Regions from separate parts of the Homo sapiens genome. Here region 2 is linked to region 1. Evidence: fine-mapped expression QTL. A gene starts in region 1. The other region holds a variant in brackets. All regions are shown on one strand. Distances are between the middles of the regions.

What was found.
Region 2: its variant is fine-mapped to the expression of HIF1A in whole blood (TOPMed, PIP above 0.99).

The regions. Positions count from the first base shown.
Region 1 is chr14:61,691,557-61,700,030 of GRCh38, reverse strand. It overlaps HIF1A (hypoxia inducible factor 1 subunit alpha), which reads right to left and starts at 4,518. Exons shown (of 15, transcript NM_001530.4): 1 at 4,192-4,518. The coding sequence starts at 4,226. HIF1A-AS1 (HIF1A antisense RNA 1) reads left to right here and starts at 4,208. Exons shown (of 2, transcript NR_047116.1): 1 at 4,208-4,324. RefSeq lists silencers at 4,060-4,159, 4,460-4,759 and an enhancer at 4,830-5,199.
Region 2 is chr14:61,471,833-61,480,306 of GRCh38, reverse strand. The region is part of intron 9 of PRKCH (protein kinase C eta); the gene reads right to left. Among named protein-coding and RNA genes, the nearest start is that of PRKCH-AS2, 69 kb to the left of the region's middle. RefSeq lists enhancers at 583-752, 1,350-1,519, 2,597-2,656, 3,290-3,369, 3,480-3,579 and a cis regulatory region at 1,434. The variant A/G (reference allele first, on the strand shown) is at 3,277.

The DNA of each region.
Region 1 (8,474 bases):
GGGATCATGTCTGGCAAATAAATAAGGGTTTATAAATTTCTACTGCAGAAAACATGAACATTAATACTCAACGCATATACAAAACAGTTAATTCTTGATGTGTCAAGAGACCAAGAGATATAATTATTTTTAAAATTCCAAAGCCTATAGTTAATTTAAACAATCTGACCATATTTTTACCAAAAATACTGAGCAACAAGAAGCTTGGCTTGTCTTAGTTTCAAATTCTCTTTCTAACCTTCCAGAGTTAAGCAGAAAACACATACACACACTGGGTAAAATCCACCCACTGGATAACTAGTCACAAAGTTTAAAAAATCAATTTCTTGATTGGAAACTCATCCAACATCACATTTAAATTTAGATTTTTTTATCCTGGTTAAGAAACAGACTTATGTTAATCTTAGATAAAGGGATACAGTATTTTAAGTATCTAAATTTAAAAAATTATATACTAAGAGAAGGCATCTATGAACACACAATTTAACCCAAATCTTTAACATCCATGCACATCAATTTTTATTTCACCACCAAACATAATAAACTGAGTTCTTCAGAAAAAAAAAAAAAATCAGTCAAGAGACTAAATAATCCCCCTCAGCTTTCTATACACCACTCTTGACATACAAGAATAGAATGTAACCACAAAATCTAAACCCTGAGCCGTGACACCATTAGAGTCACAGACAATGGCGTTAAAAGTAAAGACAATGGAAGTTAACAGGTAGAAAAGTTGACATTCTCCAAACTGCACAAGGTGCTCTGCAGTGGACCGTAGGAATGAACTCCAATACTTTCTCAGTCTAAAATAACTCGATAGTTCAGTAAATACACACGTGTGGAAGAGTGCATAGACTTCATACAAATTGAGCCACAAAACAGACCAGTAAGACAAGCTTGAAGTCTTGCCTTCAGATGGAACCCAATGGTCTTAACTCTGGAGAAACTCATAAGCAAAGGACAGTTTTTCTACCACGTAGCTGCTTTACTGAGAATATTTTATCAACTCATTATCTTTTACAAAGGTTAATTTTTATAAAATTGTCTAAACTTTGGCATCAAGACGAAAAATGTTTTAACTTACTGCCAGTACTAAGAATGCAGTGTCTTGCACATATCTTGCTTAAATGAACAGTAAGACTAGAATACTGTGTATGTTTGACTCTAGAGTCCAGAGTAAACTCAGTATTCTATTTGGGGAGAAAACACAGGGGTGAGCAATTGTGAAGCAGGAGGCCTCCACTAGAGTAGAGAGCAGATCAGATGCTCAAGAAAAATAACTGATACTAGGTGCCAATATAACCCAAGGATGTACTCTTTTGCCCATTGTAACAGGAAAAAAACGCTTTTCAAGCTCTGGATCCAATGTTAGTCTTTTCACTTTCAGGAGATAGAAAAGATGCATGAAGACACAGAAAAGAAACTAAAGGAAACAGCTGGAAGGACTAGCAAAAAAGAGTTTTAAGAGTTGTGGAAGTTTAAACAAGAATTTTAACAGGTAACATCTATTTTCAAGTACACAGTGTCATCAAGACTCCTGCAATGGGCTAAGTGCTTCACAAGCATTATCTCATTTAACCTTTACAATAACTGCTCAGATGGCTGCTATTCTTATCATCATTTCAAAAGGAGGAAAGAGGCTCAGAGGCATTCAGTAACTTGCTCAAGCTCACAAGTGAAGGGCTGGGACCCTTAACTCAGAGGTATCTGCCTCTAGATCCTATGCTCTTAACCACCATATGCTGCTTCCTCAAACAAAAGGACAATCAAAATAGAATCATAAGGAGAAAAGTTTGCTAATAAATGAGAGAGCTTCTTGACTTTTAATGGCCAAAGTTAATGAAGGAAATTAAGGAATATCTATTCTCAGAAATTTTACTTTAATGATTCAGTAATTATTTGTTTTGGAAAACTCTGAAGGAGTCTGGCCTGAAGCCTGAAACAGAATCATTACTCTCTTGACATTCCCTTAAAAATCTAAAAATCAAAATGCACGTGCTATTAAATAAGTTCAGCCCCTATAACTAGGAACAACATGAAATGTCCTGCGTTAAATCTACAGTATCATAACCATACCCATTTTCTATTCTGATTTCTTCCAATTCTTCAGGTTTTGAGTTTCCTAGACCTTCTTTTAAAAAGACAAATTTGTTTTCCAAACTCCGACATTGGGAGCTCATTTAAAATGAAAAAAAAAATTGCTTGAAGAAAATCTCCGTCCCTCAACCTCTCAGTTATCTTTCAAAAAACTGTAAATTAGTTAGAAAAGGTCATCTATTATAAACAGCATCTAAAAGTGCTGAGTAACCACCACTTATTAAGTGTTTAACTTAATTTTTCAGTTATATCAAGAACTTCTATACTAAGAAATATGAATCCATCCAATCCAAGGTTGCCAAGTTTTCAAATGAGAAAATTTTGAAAGTAACAGATGGGCTGAGGAAAATCTAAGAGCTTATTTAGAATTGGGGCTGATGAACAGTAGCTAATTTATTAATTCGTTTCAAAACTGCTTCTGATATTCTGAACGGATGAATGGCAAAACAATGAGTTCGATACTGTATATAAAAAAAGTGGTACATAATTTAATGCATTGTATTAAGTATGATTCAATATATAATAAGGATAGAAAACTGGCACTACACAGAGGTAATCTGCCTTAGGTTTACAATATAGCAGCTTTATCATTTCATCAAAAGCACTGTAATCACCTCCGCAAAATAAACTGCAATTAATTCCTGGTAACTCTTGGAATTAATCTAGACCTGTTTGCTCACTTTTTGAATTTTATAAGTGACCTTCTCTGCTGTATACAAACTAAGAATTTAATATTCTATTGAAGAAGGACCAGGAGAAGGGATCTACAAAACAGCAGGAATATAAACAAGTTTATCTTCTGCTGATACTGATTAGGGAAATTAATCTCTCTGCCAGAAGAGTGGAAGGATTTAACAGCAAAGCCAGTCTACTAACCAAAACTCTTACTCTAAATCTTCAATTCCTTAAGTGATTTCCTTAAAAGTTAAAATGCCAAAGTGGGCAAAATTGTGTGTGTGTTGGGGGATGGGGGAGTCCGCTCTTAACACCACTGGTCCAACTCACAATTCTTAATCTCTAATGTACCCCTTAGACTCAAACTTCAAGGTGATTTATAAAACTTGCATTAAGTTCTAACCGAGTGATTACTTACTTTAGATATATGTTGACGGTTTTCCTTTAATATACTTCAATTTCAGGAAAATGAGACAGAGTTCGAAAATTTTTGCAACATTTTAGTGCCGCATTTCATTCACTCATCATATACTTTTTTCAGTATCATTAAAACTGCCTAAATTTAACCAGCCCCTACATTTTCATTATTTGAAGAATGAATGAGGCATATATTCATTTATAATATCTGCGTTCTCGTGACAGGTGATATGAACTCAAGTATCCAATTCTGAAGTTCTCTTTAAAATGTTGCCATTTCCCTAAATTCCCATTACTCTGACTCTCAGTCTAGGCAAGTTTTTCAAGGCGATTAAAACGAAACAAAACCTGCACGTGCAAACTAAAAAGTTCGCATCTTAAGGCCATCGCGGCAAATCCCTAATGCACAAAGGCAAAGACACCCGCGACGGCTGGACAACTACAGGACAAGATCGCATCCGACCACGCGAGTCCCTCAGTCGGGAACTCAAGGCCCCAAGTCCACTGGAAAGCCAGGACCAGCGTGCAGGGTCCGCCCCAGGGCCGAGTTTTCAATGGAACTGGAGAGGATGGGGGCGGGAAGGAGCGGAAGCTCCGGGTGCAAACCGCGGCTACCGAGCTGCAGCTCATTTCTCTTCCCGGGGTTTTCAGGCTGGGTAAAGTCCCCTCCGGATGGGGCCACAGAGCAGGCTGGGTTTTTGAGGCGGGTAGGTGGGCGGCGCGAGGCCCCCACGGCCGGCGGGGAGGGCAAGCAGGGCTCAGACCCCGGCCCCTGAAAGCACTTTCGAGGCGTCTCCCACCCCCCACGACAAGATGGCGACGTGGACAGCGGGGGAGCCCGGCCGGCGAGGTTGGGGGAAGAGAGGGGAGGGGAGCAGCAGCAGAAACAAAAAGGCTGCCCCCCCCAATCCCATTAACGCCGAGGCCGGCCCAGGAGCCCAGGGCGGGCAGGCGGGCGGGGTCGCCGGGGGAGAAGGCGGCGGGCCGAGGGAATGGGCTTACTTTTTCTTGTCGTTCGCGCCGCCGGCGCCCTCCATGGTGAATCGGTCCCCGCGATGTCTTCACGGCGGGCGGCCCCCAGGCTCGCTCCGGCCTAAGCGCTGGCTCCCTCCACACGCGGAGAAGAGAAGGAAAGGCAAGTCCAGAGGTGGGGGTGCGAGGCGGGAAACCCCTCGTGAGACTAGAGAGAAGCGGGCGGCAATCGCCGGGGTCCGGGCCCGGCTCCGAGCCTCTCCTCAGGTGGCTTGTCAGGGCCCAGCCCGACACACTGGCCGAAGCGACGAAGAGGGTGATCCTCCTGTCCCCTCAGACGAGGCAGCACTGTGCACTGAGGAGCTGAGGCAGCGTCAGGGGGCGGGCAAGGGCGGAGGCGCGCTCGGGCGCGCGGGGAGGGGAGAGGGGGCGGGAGCGCGCCCGCTCGCCTGCCCAGGCCGGCGCGCGCTCCCGCAAGCCCGCCTCACCTGAGGTGGAGGCGGGTTCCTCGAGATCCAATGGCGAGCGACGCAGGCGGCAAGTCCCCACCCCAGCCCACGCCGCTCTCAGCCAATCAGGAGGCGGTCAGCTGAGGCACAGCTGGGACGGGCTGCGACGCTCACGTGCTCGTCTGTGTTTAGCGGCGGAGGAAAGAGAAAGGAGATGGGGGTGCGGCTCAGCCCGAGTCTGGGGACTCTGCGCCTTCTCCGAAGGAAGGCGGTGCCCGGCTTTGGGAGGCGCTGCTGAGAAGGGATTTCGGTTGCCTGGTCCCAAACATGCATCATATTTTCCTACTCTTGGTGCAGTAATGTAATGCTCCTGCTCTCTTTCTCCTCGGCCTCAGTGCTGGGCACGATTGCCGCCCAACTCTGCTGGGCTCTCTGTTCAAAAAAGCAGACTTCGCCTCGTGGCAGCAAGCCCTTCCTTTGGTCTCGTTGCTCAGATGTGTTACAACGGGGTCTTTCCTTACCAGATTACCTAACCATGGGTCAATGTCACCCACCGCACTCTTTGCCACGGAGCACAGGGGAACTCACCTTGTCTACTAAGTTTTTCTGTGGCGGAGTTTACTTACTGAATAAATGCAATTAAAAATAAAAATGAACTCCTGTTGCTGTAAACTTCAAGGGAAATAAAGTTGCAGGGAAATCTTAAAATCTGAAACTATGTTAAGCATTTGCAAATAGGTATAAATGACTTTAATAAGCATATAAACCAATTTCAGGGAAAGAGTAGAAAAAATGGCCTTTGGCAACTTTGCAAGCTACTAAACAAAACATAATCACTTTTGTCTTTGGAGGCATAAACTTCAAGCCTGTCAGTCTTCTAAAAGAAAAATATGTTTTGAGCCCAACAAAGTAGCATTGCACATATATCTCCACTTGGCGCTAAATTATTTTACTTCTCACCTTTGCCTTATGAGTTTCTTGTTAAAACCTAGCTTTGGGTTGTAAATATAAATATCTGTAGTGGCTTTCAATTGTATTAGCATGTAAAAACAATGGTCTATATAGAAGCATCAAACTCTGACAAGACAACAACCAATGTATACAGCACCTCTTTTTAACTGGTCAGTAGACCTACAAAGATACGATTAAACATTGACCTTAGCGGACAGGGTGGTTCCAGCTACTCAGAGGTGTGAGGCTGGAGAAGCCTGGGTGTTCCAGCCTAGGGAACGTAGCGAGACTCCGTCTCTTTAGAAAATTTTTGATCTTCACGCTACTTTTGTTTTTTCAGATCTACAACACTAAATGATATGTATTATGTCTTGAAAAGAACCATGGGAAATGCCTGAAGAGAAGAAAGAACTAAAAATAATTACTCATAATTTCTTTTTTAATTGTGGAAAGAATACTGTAAATTAAAAACTTTTTAGTTTAACATTCTCAAGATACTGTGTTAAGAACACTGGCTCCAGAATCAAGCGTGAGCTTGTACACAGGCTTTGAATCTTACTGGCAAGTCGTTTAATCTCTCCATAACTCAGTTTACTTATTTATAAAATGGATATAAAAGTGTCTATACCACAGTATTATGGATGGTTAAATGAGATAATAAATGTATACTTAGAACAATATCTGGTGCATAGTAAGCACTCAGTAAATGTTAGCTCTTAGTATTGTTGGTGGCGTTATTATTATTATCATTATTATTATTCTGAGGCGGAGTCTCGCTCTGGCCCACAGGCTGGAGCGCAGTGGCGCGATTTCGGCTCACTGCAACTCCGCCTCCCAGGTACAAGTGATTCTCCTGCCTCAGCCTCCCAAGTAGCTGGGATTACAGGCACGCACCACCACACTCGGATAATTTTTCTATTTTTAGTAGAGACGAGGTTTCACCATGTTGGCCAGGCTGCTCTCGAACTCCTGACCTCAGGTGGTCCGCTCGCCTCGGGTTCCCAAAGTGCTGGGATTACAGGCATGAGCCACAGTGCCTGGCCTATCATCATTATTATTGCCCTCAAATTTATTCCTCTGTTAACAGTAATTACTCGGGCTTCTCCTACAGTTTAGCCATTTTTAACTATCCAAGAATACCAATTATGTTAATATAAATCCACATATATTCTCTATTTTCAACTTTGGAACTGCCCATCGTGTTCCCACCCTCATTTATGAGGATAGCTGCAGAGATCTTCCATCATTTCCCTTTTCATTATACTTATAGCAATTATCTCTGGCCAGTGATTATAGTATATAATGTTTGTGACATCAAAAGACAAGCATTTTGTAACAGTAAATCTAAGTCATTTAAAATTTTTTTGGATCATTTCAAAAGTTTAAAGCAGAATGATAATTTGATCAGCAAAAAAATTTTTGAATATTCATTAAATATGCCCTTAAGTTAATTTTCCTTTTCAAAAATGTATAAAATATATGTTTATGTATATGTGTATACACAAATATAAATATGAAAATGGAAAGGAAAGTAGTATATGTGTATATATATATATGTCTATACAAATATAAATATGAACATGGAAAGCAGTAATATTCAACCAACTAATTTTCATATAGTTACAAAGGCACCAAATAGTATCCCCTAATTCAAACAATCCTATTAAATAACAGACACCAAAAAGGAAAATTTCATATAGGATAAAATTTTAAATCCCTCTCTCTACAACCACTTAACAAATGCATTTAGGTTATTACTATGTAAGTATATCTTAACAAACAGTCATTTAATCACTTTCTAACTTTGCAGAACTTTCTGAGTAGACTACAAGATTACTTGCAAATGACCCCATTGACCCTTAGCCCGTATTTATTAGGAAATTGGGCAGTGAATCAGGAGGTTAAGTAAAACTTGAAATTTTGATTACTACTAAATAATACAGAGCATTGAGCCTTTTGAAGGTGAAATGCATCAGATGCACACAATTTATAGGGTATCAAACTATACAAGAAGACCTAGTATTCAGTAAGTGATTCCTGGCCTATTACTACCCTTAGTTGTTTCTTTTTCTTTAAGCTATTCATAACGAGAACAATGGCAGCAAAAGGGTATTGTTTGGAAGGAAAGTGCGTACAAGATAAGAGGCATTAAAAATCTTTGTTTTTTCCTTTCAAGAATCAAGACACAAAGTATCTGTGATTCCAACATTTTGGGAGGCTGAGGCAGGAGGATCACTTGAGGCCAAGAGTTTGAGACCAGCCTGGGCAACAAAGTGAAACTCCCATCTCTACAAAAAATTTTAAAAATTAGCTGGGCTTGGTGGTTAGTGCCTGTAGTCGTAGCTACTCTGAAGGCTAAAGCGGGAGGATCACTTTCTCCCAGGAGTTCGAGGCTGCAGAGATGTACGATTGTGCCACTGCACTCCAGCCTTGACAGAGCAAGACCCTATATCTTAAAAAAAAACACAAAAAACAAACAACAACAAAACCCACACACACAGACACACAAAATAAAATGTATATTTATCTGAGTTTAGGGGGAATATAAACAGACTGAAAATTTGATATTAGCACTTTTCAATTATGATAAATATTTTTAAGATGAATTTACAAAGGAACACCAAGGGGCTTTCAGTTTCCTGTTCAACATGTAAAGAGCTTGGAAGTTGTCACTCCCATCCTCACAACAAGAAAAAAAAAAGCTAAGCAAACTGAAATCAGTAACTCTTCTTAGATCCACCAGAGAATTGAGGTCACAGGAAAAACCACTGCCCTAAAAACTAGAGAGACAGACAGATAGATACAGAGAATCACAGCTTTTCAGAGAATCACAGTTTACCAGGAGCAGAGCCCAGGCACAGAAGCCAGAAGCTGAAGCTAGTTTCACAGCTGGAGCCAACATCAGTAGGAACA
Region 2 (8,474 bases), 220 kb after region 1:
TCCTGCATTTAGGGAAGTACTGGAAGATGGATTATGGTTGTAGTGAGTCACTCCTATGGCAGAGAGGGGTTTCCCAAATCCCACTCTAGACAGAGATGGCAAAGATGACTGTTTCTGTATTTAAACCTGTGCATAGAACCATTTTGGTTTTTCTAAAGTCCATTTTCCTAGAAACTGAGCCTGCACATCTGTACAGCTTTACCTGAGGCTTTTGGCTTCTGTCAGGTGAAGTCTGCCCTGACCTGTGTGGTAGGAAATCTCAAGGCCAGGAGACCGGTTTAACATCACTTCTAAAGCCAAGTGGCTAAGCCCTTTGTCCCTGCTCCTCTCTTTTGTCCCTGATTCAGCCAACCACAAGTACAAGTCATTAACATGGGGTGATGAACACCGGTGGGAGTGAAAGCAACTCAGAAATCCCTTTGTCCCACACCTGGTGTGAGTTACAGGTGTGGGAGGCAGAGGAGCTGCTGCCTGGTGATAATAGAATTCCTGTCGTCACTTGCTCTGATGCCACTGACCTGCTGCAGTCTGGGTCCACTCTCTGCCCTGGCTATCAGTTCAGAACTATTCCTTCCCCAGGCCCAAGGGGCTAAAAATATCCCCCGAATAATGGCTGTCAGTATAAGTAAGGTGCATTCCCTAAGGCCCCCTCATTAAGGGCTGTTCGATAGGAGTTAAAGCTGATGGGCAATTTGTATGAACAAGAGACATAACATCCGGGTGGATGAAAGTGCTATGCCAGGATGGTACCAGTGACAAGATGATACTAACTAAGGAAAGTGACTGGAGAGCGAGCATGGACCAGGCAGGGCAAGATCCTGTAAGGTCACTGGGGCAAACATCTTTGGAGGCATCTGCTCAGCTCATGGTGATCCCTTCCTCAGCATTTACCCATGCTCCAGCCTGGCCGCATGGGTAAACGCTCAGCATCTGTGCACAGCCAGTTAGATCAAGCTGCACCTGCTCAGAGTCTCTTTTCCAGAAAACTGAAACTGAGGTAAAAAGCTTTTAATTTAGTCTAGGCTGTGTGCAGGAACTGAGGAAACATGAGTTAGGAAACGGAAACTGCTTTTGCAGTGTAAACGTGGGAAATGCCTGGGTATAAGAGAGTGGAGAAAGACTGGGTGGGTGGATGGACAGGTGGGTGGGTGAAGGAGAAGAATGAAGCAGAAACATAGAGTGAGGCAGAGACAAGAGATCAGGGAGGGTGAGTGAGCCAAGAGCAAAACTGCCAGGGTTCCTCATGTCTTTCTGGTTTCAGATCAGCCGAGAGAGCTGGCCAACTCCTGCCCTTGGGTTGCATGAGACATCCGTTGTACCTCTGAATCTTTATTTTTAGTTCTTTTTTTTGCATAGCCTTAAGAAAGTTTTCTTACTACCTGAAGTAAATTTTCTGCTACCAGGAGAATTTCAGCTAAAATACACACAATTTTTGTTTTTCTTTTTGAGACAGGGTCTTGCTCTGTCACCCAGGCTGGAGGGCAGTGGCAGGATCATGGCTCACTGCAGCGCTGAACTTCTGGGCTTAAGTGATCCTTCCAACCTCAGCCTCCTGTGCGGCTGGGACCACAGGTTTGTGCCACCACATCTGGCTAATTTTTTGTATAGACTGGGTATCTTTGTGTTGCACAGGCTGGTCTTGAACTCCTAGGCTCAAGCAATCCTACCTCGGCCTCCCAAAGTGCTGGGATTACAGGCGTGAGCAACCATGCATGGCACACACACCCATTTTTAAGGGGTAAGAAGTTTCCTTATTTATTTATAAATCTGGGATAATAACATCTATAACTACAGTGATCATGTAAAGATTAAACCAGAAGCCAAGTGCCTCATACAGTGCCAAGCCCAGAAAAGAATCTCAATCAATAGAAGCTATTGGTACCACTACATTATATAAAGAGGAGATTTTGTGCCCAGTGCCCAAGTCCCTGGTATGACTAAGAGGAAGCCCAGGGCAGTGGCGACACCTGGGCTCTGGGCCAGGATGCTTGAGGTCCAAGAGCAACTCCTGCTGTGCTGTATTTAGCTTCTCTCTCACAAAACTCACTTCTGCAAAATGGGGATAATAAGACAACCCAACTCACAGGTTTGTGAGGATTAAATGATTTAAGCTAAGGGCTTTGAATAGTGTCTGGCATACCATAAGTGAAATGCTCAAGAAATGTTAGCAACTATTATTATCCTCATCATCATGAGTGCATCCACTGCAGCTTCAGCCGCCATGGCCGTCTGCTCCCAGGGCTCCAAAGGGCCTGATGCATGAGGCATAGGAAGGCCCCTTGGCTGTGGCTGTGGCACACGTGGCAGTGAGCTGCATGCACTGGGTCTCGAGGCCTCCTTCACAGACCTCCAAGACTGGCGGAGGTACACACACACTCACAAGTGGACAGGAATGAAACAGCAGCCGAAACAGCAACTGCAGCAGCTCCCCCAACCCTCAGTGTGGGACAAGGGTATAGAGGGTCGAAGGAGGTGGAAGGAGTCCTAGCCCAGCTGTTGGGACACAGGGATGTTTCCCGATGCTATATGGTAATGGCCTTGACCGGGTAAGGACTTTTCTTTCTGGGAAATGCTTGCTAAGCAAGGGGTTACAAAACTAGATTTGATAACCAAAACATACTAACAAAGGTTTCAGTTCTGATAAGTTTTCTAACACTGACTGGTAATTCATATTTTCTATTTTAGGGGCTTTATAATAATTATTATTGCAAAACAAATGCCCTCCTTATGTACTAAAAACATATTACTGTAAGCGAGACTTTTTATAGCAGTTATTCTTCCTTTCTATAAAGTTGATTCAATCTCAGAACCAGATTGCAAAGATTTGTCTCCATTTAAAGAAAAAATCTGTTGTCTCTATGATTTAAAGACTGCATTTGAAGATGTATCATTCCAGAAACCAAGGCAGTAGGAAATAGCCACCATACTCAGAATTATAGTGAGGATGCAGATTACCTTTTGGAAATAATTCAAAGATAGACATAACACGTAAAAGTTATGAAAAATGTAGCTATTGCTTTAAGGCAATGTTAAGCTGGGAGCCACATCTATTCTTACTTACCCAAGTTCTAAGAACTGCCTTGGAGTATTTCTACATGAATAACAAGCTCATGCTGTATGAAAAGCTGCAGAGTGCTATTGACGGCTGGGGGAAAGGAGAAGGAAATCTCCGTAACAGATAGCAGTGTTGAACTTCTCCTAAGTACCGTTGCTTTATTATTTTTCTCAGACAAAGTCATCTACAGGGTGAGCAGGGAGTTCAAATAAACAGGAAAC[A/G]GTTACTGACGTCAAAGAGGTCACAGTGGAAAAGCACCCGCATGAGGAAATCTGATTGCACCATGTCTGAACTGGAAATAACTTGAATTTAACCACATTAAGAAAGATTACAAAGGCTTCAAGGAAGAAACAATGAGAAGGAGTCTAATGGCTGCATTTTTTTTTTGAACTTATCATTTTGCACAGCCCAGAAGATGTCAGAGGTTAATTCAATCACCCAGCAACCCCTGTGTCAAGCCCACAGGCAAGATACATCCTGTCTGAGCTGAGACTAGTCTTTGGGAAGGTGAAATATGTCCTGAATATAACAAAGCCTTAGGACTTTGCATTTCAAACCTAGAGGGACACACAGCTCTTTTCAAAGACCAAGTGTTTTCCTAGTAATCTGGATGCATTATAGCCATCTCTCATAATGAAACCTGACAAGGCTTACTGGCATATATACAGTAGACCAGGGAAACAAAGAGGAAATCTACCTTGCAGTTTAACACACTGTGAAACATCCAGGCCAGGATGTTCTTTAAAGCATAAATAAGTGGTAACATATGATCAGGGGTACAGCAGAGTCAGAGCACAAGTCCCCTCTTCCTGATGGAACCTCCTTTGGCATTTCTGGTCCACATACAGCTTTCCAGTATCATTGTGTAGGGCTGGGATGGATCTGTGCACTTGGTCTTCTTTTCCATGGGGGACCGGAAACCCTTGAAGGCAGAGCCCAGATACTAAGTGAGATATCTTTAATAGCACCAAGCACAGTGCCTGGCCAATTGTGAGGGTTAATAAATGCTTCAAGAGTGAACATAATAGGAACCATTTTTGTCTCCTGGTAAAATTTAAAATGGAACTTTAGAAGAGCTGGAACAAACTGCCAAGATTCGTTTCACCCAACCATTTTACAGAAGCAAAGGGCAAAGAAGTGAAGTACCTTGCCCATAGTTAAAACAGTTTGTGGAAGAGTTAAGTAGGACAATCAGGTCTGCTGATGCTATATTTTCCTTTATAAAGCTTTGATTTTTCTATTTATAAAACTAATTACATATCCATAGTTCAAATGTAATTACAAAGTAAATAGATAGAAAATTGAGAAGAAAATAAAGAAAATTCAAATAAAATCACCCTAATCCTGACAACCAGATATAGAAGTCTCAAGCTTTTAGCTTCCAAAGAACTGGAGATTTCAGGGCAAATAAGAAGTTTTCAAGGTAATGTTAACTAGATTTAATTTTTCCTTTGTGTCCTAATTATACTTAACATTTTATAGCATGTTTTAAAAACAGAAAGGAAAAAGTAAAAAACATACACTTCTCTTTTCATTTATATTGCATATTATTTCCTGATATAATTAGTCATCAAGACCATGATTTTTTTAACAGTTGCATGCTATTCCCGATGCCAGTTCTATGAAGTCCTACAATTAGCTTGACTTCTAATTAGGTTAATGAAAATAAAAGGACACAGCTTTTATAGTCTCTATGCCATGATAAAGATCATTTTTTTAGCCTGGTAAAGCAGGCATCTCTCAGTGGAGATGATTGCTAACTGGGCACGGTGTTTTAATTGATTGGTCAATCATTTAGACATCACTAACCTTTAGAGCACCCCCTAGTGGTCGAGAAGAACGTTTGAACAAACCTCCTAGTCAAAAACTATCCACATTTGAAATACACTAAAACTTAAGAGTCACAAAGAAGATATCTTGGATGATTATCTACTTTTTAAAAAAGGTTTAGCAACTTAACAAAAGCATCCACAATAGGATTTCTTCAAGTCATTATTTCACATAGTGAAATTCTCTTTATAAAGCTTTTGGTTTAAGCATCAAATAGGATATTTATGGACTTAGTTTGTATAGGGCTTGTAGGATAAAGAGTAAAAATACCATTTCATTTATTTAGATCATTTTTCATGATGGAGATCCCTAAACTGTGTAAACTTTTAAGACAACCACAATTTCATTTCTCCCTCTGATCTATGTATGAATTCGACACTTATGCCATGTGGGAAGATATTTTGGGTTATAGTTGATTAGACACTTTGCCCAGTTAGAGAAGTAGAGACTATGGCCAAGAATATGCCATATCTGCCTCAAGGTGATGCCTGGGAATCTACTGGCTGAGAATTCATTTCCTCTCCCCCTGTCTGCAGTGCTGATGCACGGGCCGAAGTTTCTGTGTGGAATGTGCCTTTCACATGCTATTCTGAGTTTGATTCCTCCACTGTAGCCATGACAAACTCTTCTCTGGTCCTCTGGCTGGGGAACAAAATCTGTTCAAGCAAATGACATGCCCACAATTTCTTCCCAAACTATTAAAAAATTTTTTTAAAATTATACTTTAAGTTCTAGGGTACATGTGCACAACGTGCAGGTTTGTTACATAGGTATATATGTGCCATGTTGGTTTGCTGTACCCATCAACTCGTCATTTACATTAGGTATTTCTCCTAATGCTATCCCTCCCCCAGCCCCCCATCCCCTGCCAGGCCCCAGTGTGTGATGTTTCCCACCCTGTGTCCATGTGTTCAACTCCCACCTATGAGTGAGAACATGCAGTGTTCCCAAACCATTTTTGCAATCTGGGTTACATATTGATCTCCACTGTCAATTAAGGAAGAAAGTTGCAGACCTTACTCTAAAGGTATGGAGGCTAAATTAAAAGAGGTGGAGCTCTAACAGGAAGGGGAACAGTCATCAGAAACAGCTTAAAAGGTTTATATGGGAGAAAGCACATTGTGTTAACTTTGAAGGCAAGCTTCAGTTGGCTAAGTGGAGTTCAGACAGGTTCTTAAAACCCCAAAAATGAGCAGATCCTAAGATGGTGACACCAAGAACCTCATGCCGTATCCAATAGAACTCTGAGTCTGTTAGTGAACTGACTTCATCTCAGCACTTGATTTATCCTACTATGAAACCACTTCCTTCTGATTCTTCTTCTTTTTTCCACTCAACCTTAACCCTTACTTAGAATTCCTTCTTCAAGTCTCCTCTCTTCTCTCTCTATAAACATCTACTAAAAGATTTTTGATTTTTTTTTTTTTTAAGACAGAGTCTCGCTCTGTTGCCCAGGCTGGAGTGCAATGGCGTGATCTTGGTTCACTGCAACCTTTGCCTCCCGGGTGCAAGCGATTCTCCCTGCCTCAACCTCCTGAGTAGCTGGGATTACAGGTGCGTGCCACCATGCCCGGCTAATTTTTGTATTTTTAGTAGAGACAGGGTTTTGCCATGTTGGCCAGGCTGGTCTCGAACTCCTGACCTCAGGTGATCCACTCACCTTGGCCTCCCAAAGTGCTGGGATTACAGGTGTGAGCCACTGCACCTGGCCTGAAAGATTTTATATTATAGTTTCCACTTACCAAGAGGACATGGATGACACCAAACTGATCTCCCATCTCAAGTGTGTTTCTGACAAACAAGCATCTTACCACTGAATTTCCCCCAAACCGAACTCATGCTATTCCATTCTCTTTAGGCTTCCAAATGGCCAGAGCCCTGGCCATTCCCACTTAAAAAGTCCTATCATGTCTACTTCTTTAGTGTTTCCTTGACTCCACTCCCATGATTGCTGCCTTGGGGCAGGCAAGTTCCCAGATCACGGGCCCAGCATCCTCACCAGATCTGCTGCCATTAGCCTCCCTCTGTACATAGCAGCCAGAGAGAGCCTTCTAACATGCAAATCTTATGTTACTCCCTCACTTAAAGATTTTGCTGGCTCCTTTTACCTAAACAGTTTAGTCTAAGCTCCTCAGCAAAGGACATCAGACCCATTATGACTTTGCTTCTTCATCACCACCCCCCTACCCCCGCCGCCAACCACCACCATTTCCCTTCTTACAAATCTGCCTCATCTAGTCATTTGGGGTTTCCTGGGCACATCCTGCAATTTTAAGCCTCTGTGCCTTTGCACTGCTGTTACCTCTGTCTGGGAGTCTATGCCCTCCTCTTGTGACTATAAGATCCCTATTCATCTTCAAAACACAGCTCACACAGCCCCTCCTCTGGGAAGTCCTTCCAACCTCCACGAGGATCAATCATGACTTTCTTCTCTCCATCACATGGTGTTATCATGACCTTTGACTGTAAGCAATTAAAAGGCAGGTCCACATTTTGTTCTTGTGTCTTCATCCCTGGCACATAATGCATGCTCCATAAACATTTACAGAATTGAATTTAAAATGCAAGATAAGTACACTAATACCATTCATTATATTACAGAAACAGGTAATGTCTCTTTTGGCTAGGGTCTACTTTCAATATTTAGAGACTATTCAGCCTTAAGATAGCATTTAAGGTTCTACTTTTTGTTTTGTTGTTTTTTTTGTGTGTGGGTTTTTAAAAAATTGAGACAGGAGTCTCACTTTGTCATCCAGGCTGGAATGCAGTGGTGCAGTCCCAGTTCGCTAATGCAGCCTCAACCTCCCGGGCTCAAGCAATCCTCTGGTAAGGTATCCACATTTCAAGTTGAAATGGCATTTCCATGTATGGGAAACAAAAGAAAAAAAGCCAGCAAGTGGCTCTCCCTCAAAGCCCAATCATATTGCTATCAGCACGTTTTCCCATGCTGGTTGGGAAACATTTTGCAAAACTCTGATTATCTGTTTGTACAATCCAACCACATGTACCACACACAGGATGGGAATCTGACTCACAAAGTTCAGGTTTGGGAGGATGCTTTTCATAAAATGCCACTGACTCAATGCCTTGCTGGTAAAGTGAAAGTGTAATTATTAAATGCTAAAACAAGACAAGCTGCAGTATTTGTACTGCTTGCTTTTTAAAAATAACCCATTTTAGATATATGCTCAGTCAGCTAATCTTTTGCTCCCTGGATGCCCCCAGGCTCTGATAATAATGCCTTATCGAGCAGCAGGCTTCACTGTTGAGAGCTGCCAGCAGCATGCCAGCCCTCACTCACATTAAACAGACGCTGCACGCTTCCGCTGTCTCCCCCGAGCTCAGGGGCTCCATCCCTAACAATGCCACTGTCAGTGCAGGCACCAACAGCTGTAATGAGCCCCCAACAGGAACTTTGCCTTTCTACAAACTCAGAAAAAAAATAACGCTTATATTTTCATAAAGAAGGTCTGACACATTTGGCTTTGGCTTCTATAAAAAGAAAAGTGATCGTCTAACCCATTTGACTTTTCATACCAAAGACAATCACCTGACAGTCATGTAAGGGAGCCAGGGGAGATTCTTCCCC